Linked DNA regions of Homo sapiens: region 2 is linked to region 1. The links come from fine-mapping of genetic effects on gene expression. A gene starts in region 1. The other region holds a variant in brackets. All regions are shown on one strand. Distances are between the middles of the regions. Region 1 holds the start of GALNT16 (polypeptide N-acetylgalactosaminyltransferase 16). Region 2 overlaps GALNT16 (polypeptide N-acetylgalactosaminyltransferase 16).

Evidence for each region.
Region 2: its variant is fine-mapped to the expression of GALNT16 in cerebellar hemisphere (GTEx, PIP above 0.99). The same link has a PIP of 0.9 or more in cerebellum.

What each region holds. Positions count from the first base shown.
Region 1 is chr14:69,255,253-69,263,572 of GRCh38, forward strand. It overlaps GALNT16 (polypeptide N-acetylgalactosaminyltransferase 16), which reads left to right and starts at 4,906. Exons shown (of 15, transcript NM_001168368.2): 1 at 4,906-5,215. The coding sequence starts at 5,039. GALNT16-AS1 (GALNT16 and EXD2 antisense RNA 1) reads right to left here and starts at 5,275. Exons shown (of 4, transcript NR_184249.1): 1 at 5,038-5,275; 2 at 1,802-2,049. RefSeq lists a silencer at 5,952-6,011.
Region 2 is chr14:69,347,982-69,356,301 of GRCh38, forward strand. GALNT16 (polypeptide N-acetylgalactosaminyltransferase 16) reads left to right here. Exons shown (of 15, transcript NM_001168368.2): 14 at 1-21; 15 at 4,050-6,485. The coding sequence ends at 4,187. Among named protein-coding and RNA genes, the nearest start is that of ERH, 46 kb to the right of the region's middle. RefSeq lists enhancers at 720-1,220, 6,233-6,332, 6,363-6,862. The variant G/A (reference allele first, on the strand shown) is at 4,403.

The DNA of each region.
Region 1 (8,320 bases):
GGGTCATTCCTTCTGCTACTTCTCATGGGACCACAAAGGACTTTCTCTCCCCCCTCATCCTGGGGCAGGAAGGTTTGGCCCTGGCTCCATGACTTGGGGAGGAAGCACTGGCAGGGGACTCCCTACACTGGCCCGCCCTGACCCTAAACGAATCACCCCCTTTGTCTGTGCTCTAGTCCTGTACTCATTTCTCAAGTGCTTGGCTTAAGAGAGAAGTGCATTTTTTCATAGAGCTACACTGCCTTTTCTCCTCCTTCCCTCTTCCTCTCCCTTCCTTCCATCAACAAATAACTATGCGATCGCATTCCAAGGGCTTCAGACAAACAAACAAACAAAAAAACAAATACTACACACTAACAAGCATGTACTATTTGCCACTACTATAGGCACCGGGGAAACAGTGGTAAGGAAAATATACAAGAACCCCAGTCCTCTTGGAATTTTTACTCCAGTGGCAGAAACTAATAAGTAAGAAACCAGGGTTATCAGACAAGTAGGAGGAGGAGGATTGACAATAAGAAAACTGCCAAGTTCCTTTCAAAGAGCTAAGTCCTTTCCTCCATCTATAATGGTTTATAGAAACTACCTTATAAATATCTTTTCCTTAGAGACGATTGGTGCATTGAGTGCGCTCAGCTGGCAGTGGGCAGCGCATGCTCCACTTTATGCTGGCACCTCCGTGGGCATCAGTCTCCTCCCCTGTGGAAGGGGGATGATTGCGCCTTCCTCACAGGGTCGTTATGAGTATTCTGAGATCGTGTATCAGCACATTGCCTGTTGCTTGGTAACATACATTCTGTCCACCATCCCTGCCTTCTTTCCTGCTTAGAGCAGACATGGGCCAGTAAGGGTATCCAATCAGGTCCCTTCCCTACCTTCTGGGCCCTGCTGCTGTGGACAGAGCAAGAGCTTCTGAGCTGGCCCAGCACCTCAAATGGGAGGCTGGGGCCCTGCTCTGTGCCTCTCCCCTGCCTTGCCTCCAGCCTGCTCAGCAGAGGCTCTGGAAGATGCAGCCACCCACCCACGGGCAGGACAGTCTATGACTGCTGGACATTAGCCATGGCCAAAGAGGCTGGCATCAGGTCTGTTCTTGGCAGCAATAGTGAGCAGTCCCTTTCAGGAGGCCCCTTTCACCTCCAGCAGCCAGCAACAGCCTGCAGGAGAGAGCCCCTGGGGGGTGCTTATGAGGCACTGGATTTTACATGACTTTATTTCATCCTATCTTTCCCAACAAAGTTGTGAGGTAAGAGCTGTCAGTGCCCCATTTTGCAGTTGAGGAAACTGAGGTTAAGAATTTGCCCAAACCACTCTCTTAATTTGTGACAGGATCAGCATTCAAGTTCAGGTTGTCCAATTCCAGAGCCAGGGCCTTACACTGAGCTGTACCCTTTCCCCCTCGGTTATCCACTCCTCCACAACCCCCACACCAAAGGCCCAGAGGCAGAGAGCTCCCTGGGGCATCTGGGAGCCCCAGGGGCATGTGGAACTTTGCCCAGCTTACCCTGAGTGCTGGCTTTGACAGCTTTAAAACAATATGAACTGTGCCTAAGAGAAATCCTGAAAAGGAGGAAATGCAAGTTCAAAGTGGCACAGTTGGTGAGACCCCCCCACCCCAGGACATCTTATATCCCTCCTTTTATGGATGAGAAAACGGAGAACTGTGGGCAGGGAAAGTGAGACTCCTGCATACAGAAATTCAGACCACACTGCAGATTTCCCAGTGGCCTCAGAAGCCCTGTACTCGTACCCAGACACAAGCGTTGAAAATGGCACAGGACTTAAACCGAGCTTCACCACTTACTTGCTGTAGGATTCCAGGCAAGTTGAGTAGCCGTTGAGCTTCAGTGTCATCATCTGCAGTTGGGGATATGATCATCCTTAGCTCAGGGTTGTAGGGGCTTTAGAGACAGTATAGGTGACAGTACCTGGTAGGTACTGAGTAAACTGCAGCTATTATGATGACTCTTGTTTTCACAGTTCAAAGTATGTGAAGAAACAGTGAATTCCTTAGGTGTTGCTTTGATTCTGTGATGCTGCTGGAGTCCATTCCTAGTACCAGAGAGGAAACAACACTCATTGTCATTTCTGAGCATTGAAACCTATCCCAGGGAGGGCCAGTTCTGCACCCACTTGGGATTACAATCTGAAACGAAGACCACAGACTGTAGCCAAGGTGGCAATTCCTGGTCTTTAGCTCTGCCAGAGTGCCTATGGCTTCAGGCACATTACTCCACCTCTGTCTATGTGGAATTCCTGTCAGTCAAATGAGCATGGCAATTACTTGCTGTCTTACCCCCACCCCACCCCCATCATCCCCCAGGGAAGTGCCCAACTAAGGAACAACTGTGGTGAAGTCATCTAGAGAGGCTACGCTTCACTTCTGTGCAGTCTTTCTGGTGGTGGGGGCCAAGCAAACCTTCTCTCAGGGACAGAACTACCAGGAGTGACCATTTGGGGCAGATATATAGCATCCTCACCACTGAGCCCTGGGCAGTAAGTGGTGAGATGTGAGAAACCCTGCCACATTCCAGCCCATCCCACCCCTCCCTCCTTCCCCCCATGGAGCCTTCCTTTTGGAGTCACCAGAAGCCCCAACTGTCTGGTTTCAGTCAGCATGGTCCAGCTTCATCCCCGTGCCGAGGGGTGAGTTTGGAGCCTTTTACCAGGAGGTGATAGGTGATGTGATGTCTTCGAATCCCACATCCAAAGGCAACTAGAGATGCACAGACCAGGCTGGGATGAGGGGAGCAGCCTATGACAACAGGGCTACTCCCCAAGTTTTCACCTGGCTCACCTGAGAGATGTGTGAAAATGGGGGCACCAGGAGGGTAGTTCCCTTACATTTTCTTGGTTGACCTGAGAGGCCTGTGGAGCCTGATTCCCAAGGAGCAAGGTCTTTCCTGGCCTCCCACAAATGGCACCGCTGGATCTGCCCCATGATTCCTGCGGAAACCAGATGGAGGTTTGGCAGTGGTTTTCTCCATCTATGCAAACAAGCCCTGGCCCCTGGCGCAGTCTTATTAAACTCCCCAGGGGAGAGAGACCTGGGAGAGCATCTGGCGTCTCCAGACTCCTGCCCCTGTTGTGACTGCCACACCTTATGCCTGAAATTCCCTGCTACTTGTGTAGACCCTTTGTGAGGCCCTCTTTGTGCATTCTCTTCTTTCTAGGTCCCATTCCTGCGTGGGTCACTTTTGGACTTGTCTAAGTGTCATCGTAATTAGTCTTCTGAGTGAGGATATCGTATTGCAGTAATGACCCTGGGTTTTCCTCAGCAAAAACCCAACTAGGGTTTCTTCACCTCAACAGAAATGTATTGAGCATCTATTATATGTGCGGTTCAGTCTCGAGTGCTGGAGAAATGGAGAAAAGCCACCTGATTTTACTTCTATCTGTCAGGGTGGTGCTCATGGGATGCTTGTGGGGGGGCATGATGCTGTGACTTCAGTTTGCCTGATTCCCCAGATGGCTTCATTTAGAGGCTGGACCCTATGTGGGTCTTCGGAGTAGCCATGGTGTCCAGCAGTGCCAGCAGGAAGCAGACTCCTCAACAACTCTGCCCCGGCATTCAAGGACCTCCTGAGTTCAGACTCACCCAGCCTGGCCAACCTCAACTCCTATCAAATCCTAGGCCCCCTGCAACGCCTGGCAGCTCTCTCTCTTGAACACATCAAGCTCTTCCATCCTCTGGATTTTTGCAAGGCCTATTTCTGCAGTCTCTCCCCTGTCCTCACCTCCCCCTTCCTTACCTCTTAAGTGATTCATCCACCTTTCTGAGAGCTTTCCCAAAGGCCACCTTACAATAAATTATTTCTTCCTCTGTTGGATCCCTACTTTGTTGTTACACATCTATTCATTGAGCGCTCTGTGCCCGACACTGTGCTGGTTTCCTAAAACTCATCCAAGCCTCTTGCTTTCTGCCTGGAGTGAAGAGTAGTTCACGTTCTGATTCTCAGTGCCTCTAGGGCTGGAGCGGAATCTTAATGTCTGTGTCCTCGTCTCTCACCACCGCGTTTTGCACTTTGTCGAAAGGTGTCAGATGGTGAGATGGCTTCTAGACTGGGCTCTGCCCACTAATTAGCTGTGTGGCCTTGGGAGAATCATCCGGCCTCTCTTGCTGCCCTTCTTTCCGATGAAATAATGCTGACGATGATATTTCAGGGTTGTCCAGGGGTCAATGAGGCGGGATAGAGGGAAGCATCGTGAAATCTGGGAGCCCCAGGCCAGCGAAAAATGTGGAAGGGCCGTACCCGCACTCTCCTAGCACTGGGTGTGAGGCAGCGTCGTTTCCCCTTCGCGCTCTTCGAATGTCAAGTGCACCAGCTTCCAATCCCTCCTCTGGGCGGGCCCGGTCTGGCTAATCTCAGCTGCAGATTCCAGTACAAACTCAGGACTCTCCCCCGCCCAGCCGCCCCTACACAAGGACTCGCCGAACACACCTTGAATCCCGCGCCAGAGCGCAGCCCGGAACTGCAGCTCGCGGCGCGGGCCCAGGTCGGGGGTCGCGCGTCTCCAGTCGGTGACTCAAGGCCGCTCGGTCCGGGGGTGGGTGTGGGTCGGCAGGACCGACCAGGGCCGCGCGGGGGCAGCTGCCGGGCGTTCGGTCACCTAGCGGTGGGAGCCGAGGCTGGCTTTGGCCAGTCGCCATTCCGCCGCGGGCGTCTGTCTCGCCGGGTTCCCGGGCGCGGGAGGAAGGCCCGCGCCGCTTCCCACTCGGCGCGCTTCTCTCCCAGTGCGCAGTGGCCTGGTGGGTCAGCCGGCGGCGGCTGGAGCGCGGGGCCGGCCCTGCGCACGAATGAATGGGCGCCCGGGGGACGCGCGCGCTCGGGGCTGAAGGGCATTAGGACCGTGAGGATCGCTCCGCGATCCTGTCTCTCCCTATCACCCCCCCGCCCCCCCACCTCTCTCCTTTTTCTGCTCTGCAGGACTGAGCAGCTAGGCGCGAGCGAAAACAAACAGCTGGGGCTGCGAGCGCCCCCGCCCCGGCCCCGAGAGCACGCCGGCCCAGTCCCCCACCTGGGGCGCCCGTCTGCCCACCATGAGGAAGATCCGCGCCAATGCCATCGCCATCCTGACCGTAGCCTGGATCCTGGGCACTTTCTACTACTTATGGCAGGACAACCGAGCCCACGCAGCATCCTCCGGCGGCCGGGGCGCGCAGAGGGCAGGCAGGAGGTCGGAGCAGCTCCGCGAGGACCGCACCATCCCGCTCATTGTGAGTACGCCCCGAGCGTCGGCCGGCCGGCTAGGGAGCCGCGGCGCGCGTCCAGACCCTGCGCGGCGGCCGAGGGCGCGGGGCCCGGCCAGGGCTGAGTGCCCGCTGCGCCGGGCCGGCTTTGTATATGTTGGAGCATTCCTGCCCGTTGTTATGGCAACCTCTGCCGGGCGGCGGGGCTGGGGCGCACCGACTAAGGGAGGGTGACAGAGGGTGGGGGCTGGGAGAAAGTGCTGCAAGTTTGGTGGGCCCGGCGTGCGCGCGCGGCTGGGAACGTGGCGGCTCTCCCGGCTCTGCGCTGCCGGGGCCGGGAGTCTGGGGGCTGCGGGAGCCTCGTGTGCCCCGGAAGGCTGCCGGGCCCAGCGCGCGGCGAGCGGGCGGTGGGAACCACTCGCAGCCGAGCGCGTAGGTGGCAGTGCGCAGCCCCTCTCCAGCCTTCTGGGGGCAGAGGACATCGGGTGGGGGCGTGGGTAGGGGAAGGCTCTCTAGGCGCTGCGCCTGGCTTCGAACCCCCTTCTGAGCCGGGTCAACTTGAACCCGCTTCTTCGGCGCGGACACCCAGCTTCCCCGGAGTTCTCTGGGTTGAGGAGAGGTCTCGCACTGTACGCGTCTCTCACTCCCAACCTTAGGGTCCGCCACCACGGGTAGGTGGGCAGTGTCAGCGCCCGAACTTGGCGATACCCTTGCATGAAGTCAGCCTCGCGACATCTAAGCGGGCAGGGAAACAAAGGCAGTGTGGCACAGCGGGGGCGGCGGCGGGGCTGCGGGGGCCCTTGGCGCTCTGGGGACCCGGGCGGGGGCGTGCGGAGCCGCAGCCGCCCTGCAGGGGGCGATCCTGTCGCCGTCTCCGTCCGAGCCCCAGGTGACAGAGCTGTGCGTGGCCAGGCAGGGGCACCTGTTGAGGCGGGAGGCTTTGGCACCCGCCGAGAGTGCGCTCGAGCGGGCGCATTCTTCCAGACGGGGGCGGTTGGTGGACGAGAGCCTCGGACGACCCTCGGGAACTACCAGGGCGGGGCAGCCTGGCCGGATGAGGACCAGGAAGAGGAGAGCCGAGTGGGGCGGGGGTAAAGGAGTGAGGAAGCGTGGCGATTCCGACAAGGAAAGATCTGGGCCTGGGGGTGGAGGGGTGAGGAGATCCGCGGGGGAGGTGCAAGGTCCGGAGGGCTGAGGCTTGTGTGGAGCCGAATCCGAGAAACGCATCCAGACGCGGATCTGAACCCCAGGAATATCGGGAAGTTCATTGGAGAGTGTCCCCTCATATTCCCATCCTGCCCCAGATTCCGAGTCCCCTGCAAAGGAAACATTATTTCAGGGCTTTGCCTGAGGAGACCTGGGGCGGGGGGGTGAGGTTGTGGGTTTTGTCCTAGATACCAGTCTGGGTGAACTCTCTGGGGGCAAGCCTGATTAGGTGCACTGTTCCCTTCTGGGCTGTTCTCCCAGGACACTGTTTCCAAAGCACTTGTCGCCCTTTGGACAGAAAACTGATAAGGAAAAGCCTCCTGTGCTGAGGCCCCAGAGTGTTGTGATCTGAGCAGAGGGACAGGTTGGAGCTGGAACTGTCCAAACCAGCAGTGGCCTCCAGACCCCAGGGAGCTTCCTCTCCAGGAGCCCAGGCTGCCACATTCATACTCAGTGGCAGGAAGAGCCCTAGTCTCAGGCAAGGCAGGCTGGCCAGATGCTCTGTCCCTCTTTCTGGTGAGGCGATGAGAAGAGGGTCTGAGTTGGAAGGGGCGGAGAAAGAGGCTGGGCAGGGAGGAGAGGAGGGAAGAGAGCACAGGAGACTGCTGCTCAGAGCCTCTGCTTTGGAACCCGGAACCTGAACCCTGACCTGGCCCATGCACCTCTCTCCTGCTCCTTCCAGAGTCCTGTAAGATGCACTGGGAGGGCCGCTCACATTTCTCAAGAGTCCCAGAATGGTGTAGGGGACCTGCTGGAAGGATTCAGCACTCATTTTGAGGGGTGGGAATTGGAGGTCATGAGAATCACCAGTAAACATCCTCTTGTCCCTGCTTATTCCCACAGGGTTTGACTTGCTGCAGGTAAGAAAAGGTCTCAGAGCGGGAAGCTAAGTTTAAAGTATGAAGGAGTATCAGGGAGATACCTGGGAGCTGGGAAGTGAAGGTGCAGGAAGAAAGGGAGAATGGAAGTCCCTGGGAGTGGCAGAGCCTTCTGTGGCCACTTAGGGGCACAGCCAGCTCCCTCTTTGTTCTTAAGCTTTAGATGCCTGTTCCACCAGCACTGACCCCCCCGTCAGGCACCACTTTTGACAACTGCCTTGCATTGTTTCATTGTATTCCTCTCTTCCAGTTATTTCTTCCATGTGATTTGCAGCTGAATGTAAGTGATGCATGCGGGAACTGTGCTGGAAGCTCCTTGCATCCCCACATTGATGCACACAGCAAGATTTCTTTTTTTCTTTTTTTTTTTTTTGAGATGGAGTCTCACTCTGTCACCCAGGCTGGAGTGAGGTGGCATGATCTCGGCTCACTGTAACCTCCACCTCCCGGGTTCAAGCGATTCTCATGCCTCAGCCTCTCGAGCAGCTGGGATTACAGGCATGCGCCACCACTCTCAGCTAATTTTTGTATTTTTAGTAGAGATGGGGTTTCATCATGTTGCCCAGGCTGGTCTCAAACTCCTGACCTCATGTGATCCATTCACCTCAGCCTCCTAAAGTGCACAGCAAGGCTTCTTAAAGGAGTGAAATAGGATTCTCACCCATTTCTGGGGGCAGTCAATGCTTCACATCCCCCTAATATTATTGTATTATATTCATATCTCCTTAATATTTTATTATCAACTGTAACCTCTAAGTAAGGAGGTGGCTCTAAGTAAGGAGGTGGGGGATGTACGTTCAAGCTTCTGCAGGCATTGAATGCTTTGTTCAACTTAAAAGGGGCAGGTGCAGCTGAGGATTTACTTTCTCCCTGCAATTTGTGGTAACCGCTTATTCAGAAACATTTCTCTGTCTAGTTGGGCCAGGATGCTGCATGTGGATTTTCAGATTCTTAGAGAATGATGTGGCTAGCCCTGCTGTCAGAGGCTGGCAAATTCAGACAGGCGTCATCATTGCTCCCTTGGGGAATCAGAGAGCTGAGCTGGGAA
Region 2 (8,320 bases), 93 kb after region 1:
AACCCTAGAGAAGGCAAGCAGGTGAGTCTCCTTGCCTCTGGCCCAGAGGCCCAGCAGCCCGAGGGGCCATGCCTCAGGGTGGCAGACCTTGGCAGGAGAGCCCCTGATTGACTCAAATAAGCCCTTCAGAGCGAGGATCTGTGGGGAGGGGGAGCAAAGTCTACATCTAGGTCAAGCCAATTATTCTGCCCATGAGGAAATACTTCTTTGGGTAATTATTTGTTTAATGCCATCCTGCCAGGCTGTGAGCTCCATGAAGGCAGGGACCACTTGTCTTGTTAACACTGTATCCCTAGCTCCTGACAACCACCACAGTTCAAATAAGTGTTAGCTTTTACTGACAGTCTGTGCTAGAAGTTTGAAATAGATCATCTCATCTAATCCTCCCAGCCACCCAGTGACGTGGGTTCTAGTACTACCTCCATTTTATAAGTGAGTAAGCTGAGGCTCGCTGAATCTAAAGAATATATGTCAGATCACACAGCTGAGAAGGGGTGGAGCTGGGATTCAAACCCAGGTCAGTGACTTCTAGGCCCACAGTCTTAACCCAGCACATAGTAGATGTTCAATAAGTATTTCTTGACTGTTGGCAGACTAGGGAAACTGAGCTCCAGACACAGTGATGTCCAAGCTGGCATGACCAGCCTCACGTGAGCACTGCTTTTTCCATTGATCCGACACTCTCACCCACACTGTCACCACTAATCCTGGGAGACAGGTCAGGGTCAAGGAAGAAAGTGATGCACAGAGAGGTGGAGTCACTTGCTCAGGGTACACAGCAACCAGTGACAGTGGATTTCCAGAATCCAGCCAGCTCTCTTCTGTGCTACTCCCTTCCTGTCTTGGAGGGCTCCCTCACCACCCAGGGAATGGGACCCAAGGCCCAGAGGCTGCTCCAGCACTTCCCCTGCTCACCCTCCTCAGAAGCCCTCCCTGTGCCTGCCACTGGCTAGCCTGCCTCAGTCGGTGCAAGCAGTGAGGAGGGTGCCTGGGTCTCTGATTTGGCCTGCATGGTTTTCCTCCTACCCCTTTTTCTTTGCTTGGGTCAGCACGTTTTTTAAAGGATGAACAGCAGTTTGCTGTGCCATTCTGGAAAGCAGCCACAGCCTCTCCCTCCGGCCTGTGTGTGTCTGAGGGATCTGTGTGCCCAGCCCACTTGCTGGACCTGTGGGACACTTTAAGCGCTTTTGGATGGTGGGGGGATGCAGCCCACCCTCGGCCCTGCCCTGCAGTGGGGCTGGTGCAGTGTCTCCTGCACCTAGAGCACCCACCTCTCTGAGGGCAAATCCTTGAGCCCACGCCCACCCCCTCCCACTGAGGAATTATCTCCGAGCAAAGCCTCCACTCAATTGCCCCTCTGGGGCTGAATCACACATTTCCCCCTTTGTGCTGACCCAGCCTACGGGGTGTGTAGGTATCTCCTTGGCCCCATTCATTCTGCCCCTGCAAGTCCTGCCAGGCTCCCGATGGCATTCTGGGTGCCTGTGCCCCTCTTCTCCCAGGAGGACAGGATGAGCCAGCTATCCCACTGCCAATGCCTTCTGGAATCCGGGCCGTCCTTCTTGGTCCCCTGCTGGTCCTATTTCCAAGGCTAGCTGGGTTTCCTGTATCCGAGAGGCTCCTGTGCCTCAGACCTGGTGTGATGGAGTCAGCAGGCCCCAGCTCAGTCTTCCCTCCCCCTCCCTTCACTCAGTCTCCTCACTTATAAAATAAGGGGCTCCCTCCCCTGCTTACCTCACAAGGAATCCGCAAGAACCAAGATGTGGAGATGGGACAGTGGGTGATGTGACATTGTTTCTCAGACAAGCCCAGAATTGAGTGGCCTGGAGAGTCAAGAAGCCCTGAGATTGTGCCTAATAGCACTGATAAGAAGTGAGAATCCCGCTGTTTGGGGAGCACTTCCTAATGATTGGGTGATTCAGTCATTCGTTCATCTTAAAACAAAATGACGGCTGGGTGCAGTGGCTCATGCCTGTAATCCCAGCACTTTGGGAGGCTGAGATGGGTGGATCATGAGGTCAGGAGTTCGAGACCAGCCTGACCAAAATGGTGAAACCCCGTCTCTACTAAAAACACAAAAATTAGCCGGGCGTGGTGGCGCGCGTCTGTAATCCCAGCTACTCAGGAGGCTGAGACAGGAGAATCGCTTGAACCCGGGAGGCAGAGGTAGCAGTGAGCCGAGATCGTGTCACTGCACTCCTGCCTGGGTGACAGAGCGAGACTCAGTCTCAAACAAACAAAATGTCACTGGGTGCCTACCTTGTGCCAGAGAATGTACAGATCATGTTGGCCACAAGGATGAACGGACATGGTCCTTGACCCCCAGGGAATTTGCACTTTAGTGGAAGAGAAAGAAGGGAGTAAGACACTATATTACAGAAGGCTAGATGCTGAGGTAGCTCCAAGCACCACGACTCCCTGGGGTGAGGATGGCCATACTCTCTCCAGCTGGGCATTGCTGGAGGTTTGGCCTACATGAGGTAAATGTCAAGGACTAGAAGAGCATGAAGAAACAGGAGGGGGGATCCAAAGGCCCTTGACCTTTAGGCTCTCTGCGGGGGCCATGTGGGCCCAGAGAGGCTGGGTCTCAGCCCTACCCATCACGTCCTTGCATTCCCACTGGGAGCCCAGGCTCCGCCCCTGCCTTCCACCCTGTGTGCACATCCCCCCGCAGCCCTAGCCCTATCCCTGCAGCTGGGTGGGCTCATCTCTCTCCCCTCAGCTGCTCCCTGTCCACCAACTGCCCTCAGAGCCCTCTGGGCTTCCTCCACATGGTCACAAGCACTCCTGCCTCTAATCGAAGACACGGTGAATGAGAGAAGATGGAAGAGGGGAGGTGGTTGCAATGGGAGGCAAATAGGAGAGAAACCCAAACTAGACCTATCTTACTATTATTCTTCCCTGAGCCTTGAAACCTGGGTCTCTGCCTCTCATCCCTTCTCATAAATGTTCCAAGCAACACTCCATCCTCCACCCAGGCACTTCCGTAATGTTCTACAGGAGCAACTCTTCTCCCCCTTGTCAAACCCGGGGTCGGGGAGGCACCAGGAGGTGAAGGCACTGACCAGGAGCCCCTGCATGACTCTGTGATGCGAGACCTCCAGTCTCCCACCACCCTGCTGGCCCCACACTTCATCCCTACAAAGAAGGCAGCTTCCCACTAGGGGGTGTAGATTACTGGCCTCACAGGTCAGAAGCTTAGGAAGAATAAATCTTGTTTACAGAAATAAAAGATTTACCTAGGCCAGGACTGACAAGCTCAAGTGCCTACAGGGAGCTGGTGGGAAAACCCCAATAGGAGAAAAGTCGGGACCAGGCAGGAACTATGGTGACCTGCAGAACAAGAGCCCCATCTAAGGCAGAGGGCAAATCCTCAGCCCCAGCAACTGATGCCATGTAAGAAACTGGGTCCAATAACTACATAGAAGCTGGAAATGCAGATTTGCACGTGGCAACCAAGCTAAATTGTAAATAAACACAGGGGACTTCTGCTTTGCCTCCTCCTCTGATCTGGACAGGAACTTCTGCAAACTACAGAAAAGCAAGAGCCCTGCTGGGAAGGGCAGGGCTTAAAGCTGGTGTTAGAGGCAGGATGGGGGCAGCCTCTTACATAGGAACACACAGCCTGATTTAAATGAGGGGCATGACTGGGCATGGTAGCTCATGCCTGTAATCCCAGTGCTTTGGAAGGCCAAGACAGGTGGATCACTTGAGGTGAGACGTTCTAGCTAGACCAGCCTGGGCAACATAGCAAGACCCAGTCTCTGCAAAAAATTTAAAAATTAGCTGGGCGTGGTGGCATGCAGGTGTAGTCCTAGCTACTCAGAGGCTGAGGCAAGAGGATTGCTTGAACTCAGGAGTTCGAGGCTGCAGTGAGCTGTGGTAGCACCACTGTAAGAACAAGGTCATGCCTAAAAAGAAAGGAGGAGGGGGATGTGTCCTAGTTATATACAAGGGCTGTGTGCATACATGTGGAATGAAAGTACAACATTATTTTTTTAAATCATTGTTTTCTCCTTCCTCTTCTAACCCATCTCTGTTCCTCCTAGAAATGGAGGAGAAAAGGATCTTTCATCCAGCATTCAGTCAGTGGCCTCTGCCTGGAGACAAAGCCTGCCCAGCTGGTGACCAGCAAGTGTCAGGCTGACGCCCAGGCCCAGCAGTGGCAGCTGTTGCCACACACATGACGGTAGCCCTGGGGCCTCCTGTACCTTTTGCATGAGACTTCGGGACCGGAAGGGGGTTAGGGTGGGGGAGTGCAAAGTGGGCTGTTCCCATCTCCTCACATTTCTGCCAGGACCATCAGCAAATACCCACCATGACACACGTTCTCCAAAGCTTGTTCTAGGAGGGCGCAGGCGGGCACGCCCCGATGCCCTCAGTGCTGTCCTGGCCTTGCCCC[G/A]GGAGAGGAGATGGTCAGGGTGCTGGACTGTTGCTGGGTAGAGACTGAGTAGGTGCCCCTGGCCCTTTGTCCTCTCCCTTGGCGCTTCTTGGGGCTGGGACAATAGTGTGTGGTCTCTCCCTTGTTGCCCGGAGAAAGCAAGGACAGAAGCCCACACAGGGGTCTTTTGGGTCATGAGGCCCAGCTGTGCAGGCAGGCAGGGCCAGGGGAAATTGGGCAGCATGGATGGAGAGGCTGAAGGCTGGGAAGAGGGAAGGGGAGAGGGGCAGCCTGCAGGGGTAGCTGAAGAACAGGAAGGAGGTGAGAAGCCCGGTGACCTGTCAGAGATGCCAAGCCCAGGGTGGCACTGGGTTGGGTGGGGACGGATGGTGTCTTGGCAGCAAAGGATGGGTAATTTGCAAATGAACATGGATAGAAGAGCAGCAAAGCACCAAAAGAACAAGGTCTCTTACCCAGGACACAGTCCCTTCCACACTTTACCAGCCCCAGGGTCTGAGCCCGACGCTGCCTCTTCCGGTCCTGTGCCTGTGGGTGCCCACATTCTTAGCAAGAGGCTGCAGAGGGATCTTTAGGGGAAGATTCGGGCGTAGTTTATTAAACAGACTCCACTTCTATTTGGCCATGTGTCAGGCTGAGACCTCTCTCTCGGGCATTAATGAACAGCTAGTGCCCTGTCCCTGCCGCCAGGACCCACTGAAAGGACGGGTAGCCACACACATCCCTGAGTAGTCCCAGCCTCATTTGTCATTTTTGACTCCTGCTTTCTCAAAGGTTTTTGCCTCTGTCAATACAGCATCATGGGTGGTTGGAAAGAAGGGAACTTCCCTTCTGGACCAAGAACAGCCCCTAAGTCATTAGGGTTCAACCTCACCCTTATTCCCCTCCCCGCTACAGGAGCCCCTAAGTCATTAGGGCTCAACCTCACCCTTATTCCCCTCCCTACTACAGGAGGGATTTTCTTGAAGGGTCAGCTATTGCACTGTGCTGGGAGGCTGGCTGTGGCTCCTGTTTGTGAAGAGAACTCCCAGTTCCTTTTCACAGCCGCTGAGAACACATCCACACATCTACCCCACGGCCTTGTCTTGGAACTGCTCCTGCTATCCCCACACCCTGCTTCCTCACCCCACTGGCTCTTGGGCAAATGACTGTTGGTACCAGGACCCTGGGGGTCTCCCCTACAAAGCAGACCAGCCTGGGGCAGATATACCTACCACAGGAGCCCCCTGTCTTTCATAGGCCAAGGATCCACATACCCATAGAGTTCATGGATTCTAGAGGGTCTAGGAATCTCTTGAAATTGTCCCTAAAATACTGCATGTGTGTGCATACATGCATTTTCCTGGGGAAAAAGTCCATGGCTTCTAAAAGAGGTCCCTGATCCCCAAAGGGCCTGAACCTCTGCTCTGGATTGAAGCCACTGTCTGCCCAAGCTGCCACCCCCTAATCTTCCTCCCTGGCGTGCTCAAACTGCCATCGCCTGCTCCCTCCACACGGCCCTTGGGGTCAGCAGCCAAGTGTCTGTGGTCCGCAGCACCTGCTCTGGAGGGCTCTCCAGCAGTTTCGCCTCCTGACTCTCACCAGCGTCCTCTCGGCAGCACTCCCGTGCCCAAGTGCACCCCTCTGGACTTGCCAGCGCAGGCCCCTTCGCTCCCAGGGCCATGCTTTGCCTGTCCTCTGTCGTGATGTTTCTTCCGCAGCCAGGTGCAGCCTCAGATCCCCTGTTCATCTGGGAAGCCTCCTGCCACAGCTTAGGACAGAACTGGGCCCAGGGCAAAGGCCTCTCCCCAGAGGATGGACTAGAAGGCCTGGGCCACACTCGGGCATGGACCTTTGGGGCTGGGGAGCCGGGGCTGCGCCTGTTGAATGTAAGAGGACTGCTGACCAGAGGGCCTTCAAGAGGGTCTCTCTGTCCTTTGCTGTGGTCAGATCAGGCTCTGCACTTATCAGCCGGTCCTTTGTGGCAACGCAGCCCTGTTCTGTTTTTGCTTTTCCTCTTCTTGACCAAAGCATGTGCCACTAGCTGTCCTTGAGGACCTCGTCTTTATGAAACACACACCTGGAATAAAACCACTTCTTACATGTCCACATGCACCAGCGCCTTCCTTTCTGCCTCCAGGCCTAGCCCTTCAGCACACCCTCCCCCGCCTCGTGGGGAAAGTCCGGGCCTCCTTTCTGTAAAAGTGAAACTGAACATGCTCAAGTCTAGCCCTGTCCTGCACCTGGTAGCTTGCTCGTCGGCCTCCATGCCCTGTGGTGCCCCAGGAACTCCTGACTGCTCTGGTGGGGGCCAACAGGTGGCCCTACTGCAAGGGCAGGCCTTGGACCAAAACCAGGAATCAGCACAGGTCAGGTGGAGCCCAGGCTCCTGTGGCCTCATTATGGGATTCTACTTGGGGCTTAGAAATGGAAAGCAAATTGCTTCTCCAAATAGGTATTGCCCTGCCGCCGTGCTTGCCTTTAGCCAGCCCTCTCTCCTTCCCTGTGAGCCAGGCCTGTCCCCTCGGAGCTGCCCTCCCCTGCTCTACCACACAAGAAGGCAGTGGTACAAATTCAGGCAGGACATACTTCCTGGGTAAAAACAGCAAAATAATTCTGAAAAGAGTCTTACCAGACCAGCTTTGCTTGATTGGGTAGCAGATGCTCTGCCTAATGTTCCCATGGAAACCAATGGAAAACCCCCACCATGTCTGTGATCAGAAGCTGAACCTACCCAGGTAAAAATAAACGCTGCTTCAACATACATATGAACTGCAGCTGGCAGGCCAGCACACCACTAGCCTCTCCTGGACGCAACCATTTCTGCCCTCAGCCCCACTTTGCCGTGGGGCTGCTGATCTGGAGTTACCCAGAACTTCTGACCCCTGGGCCTGAGGAGCCTGGAGCAAAGCCCTAGCTGGCTGCAGAGAATACACCTTGGCTACAATGTCCAGCTTGGTCTGGGCTTAGGAGCAAGTCACTGTAAAAGACCTTGGCTGCAGCCTCCATTCCCCCATCCACCCCTCCGTCCTCTCAGGGAGCACAGCCCACCACCCACCGCCTACTCAGGGCTCCCTCCTGGCGCGCTGAGCCCCATTTCCACTCTCCATCTATTTTCACCCTCAGCCTTGGAGGGCTCTGGTGCTTGCTTCTCCTGAGTCAGGCTCTCTCCTCTTGCTTGCTCTCCTCCAAACCTACCTCTCCCAAAGCCCATTTTCTGTGCCACCCAGTTTTTTCCCTAGGAGATAAGGCTGTCAGCCTTTAGCCAGGCCCTGGAGGAATCAGCAAAAGCCCCAGGCTGGGTATTAACAGTTACGTCACTGGCAGGAGAGTCCCCCGAAAGCCTATGGGCAGGGCAGCAGAAGGGACTTCTGCACCAGGGCCAGACTCCCATTTGTACAGCAGGGAGCTGTTCCTGAGGATCCCTGGGCCTCTGTGACTTGGCTTCAGTTTTTACAAGGGCTGTTCCCCCTGGCCCCTCAGGAAGGCTGTCTCCATCTGCAGTTGGGAGAAATAACCTGGACAATATGACTGTCGTCCCAGGGTTCCAGCACCCCAAGGCCTGCGGGGGATGTCTCCCAGCACTGCATGGGGTGTGGTCCTTCTCCCACCAGGGAACAGGAAAGGAAACCTGGAAGGGAAAGGCTGGCATTTATAACGTCTGTAATTTCATTGCCAACAATGTTCTCAGTGTGTTTGGTATTTGTGTGTCCCTGTGATGGTCTGAGTCAGTGCTCCTCCAGAAGGAGGGGGCAACCCAGCCAGCTTCTCTAATGGGAAGAGGTCTTCACTGCCAGGCACTTAGGAAAGACCTGGAGATGGATCAGGGGAGGGCCTACTCTCCTGGGCTTGCAGCTGGGCTGTCTGAGTAGCCGACCTGGACTGAGGCTCCAGAGCCATCTGAGGACAATTTCTCCTGCTTAATTCAGCCCTGTGAAGCGT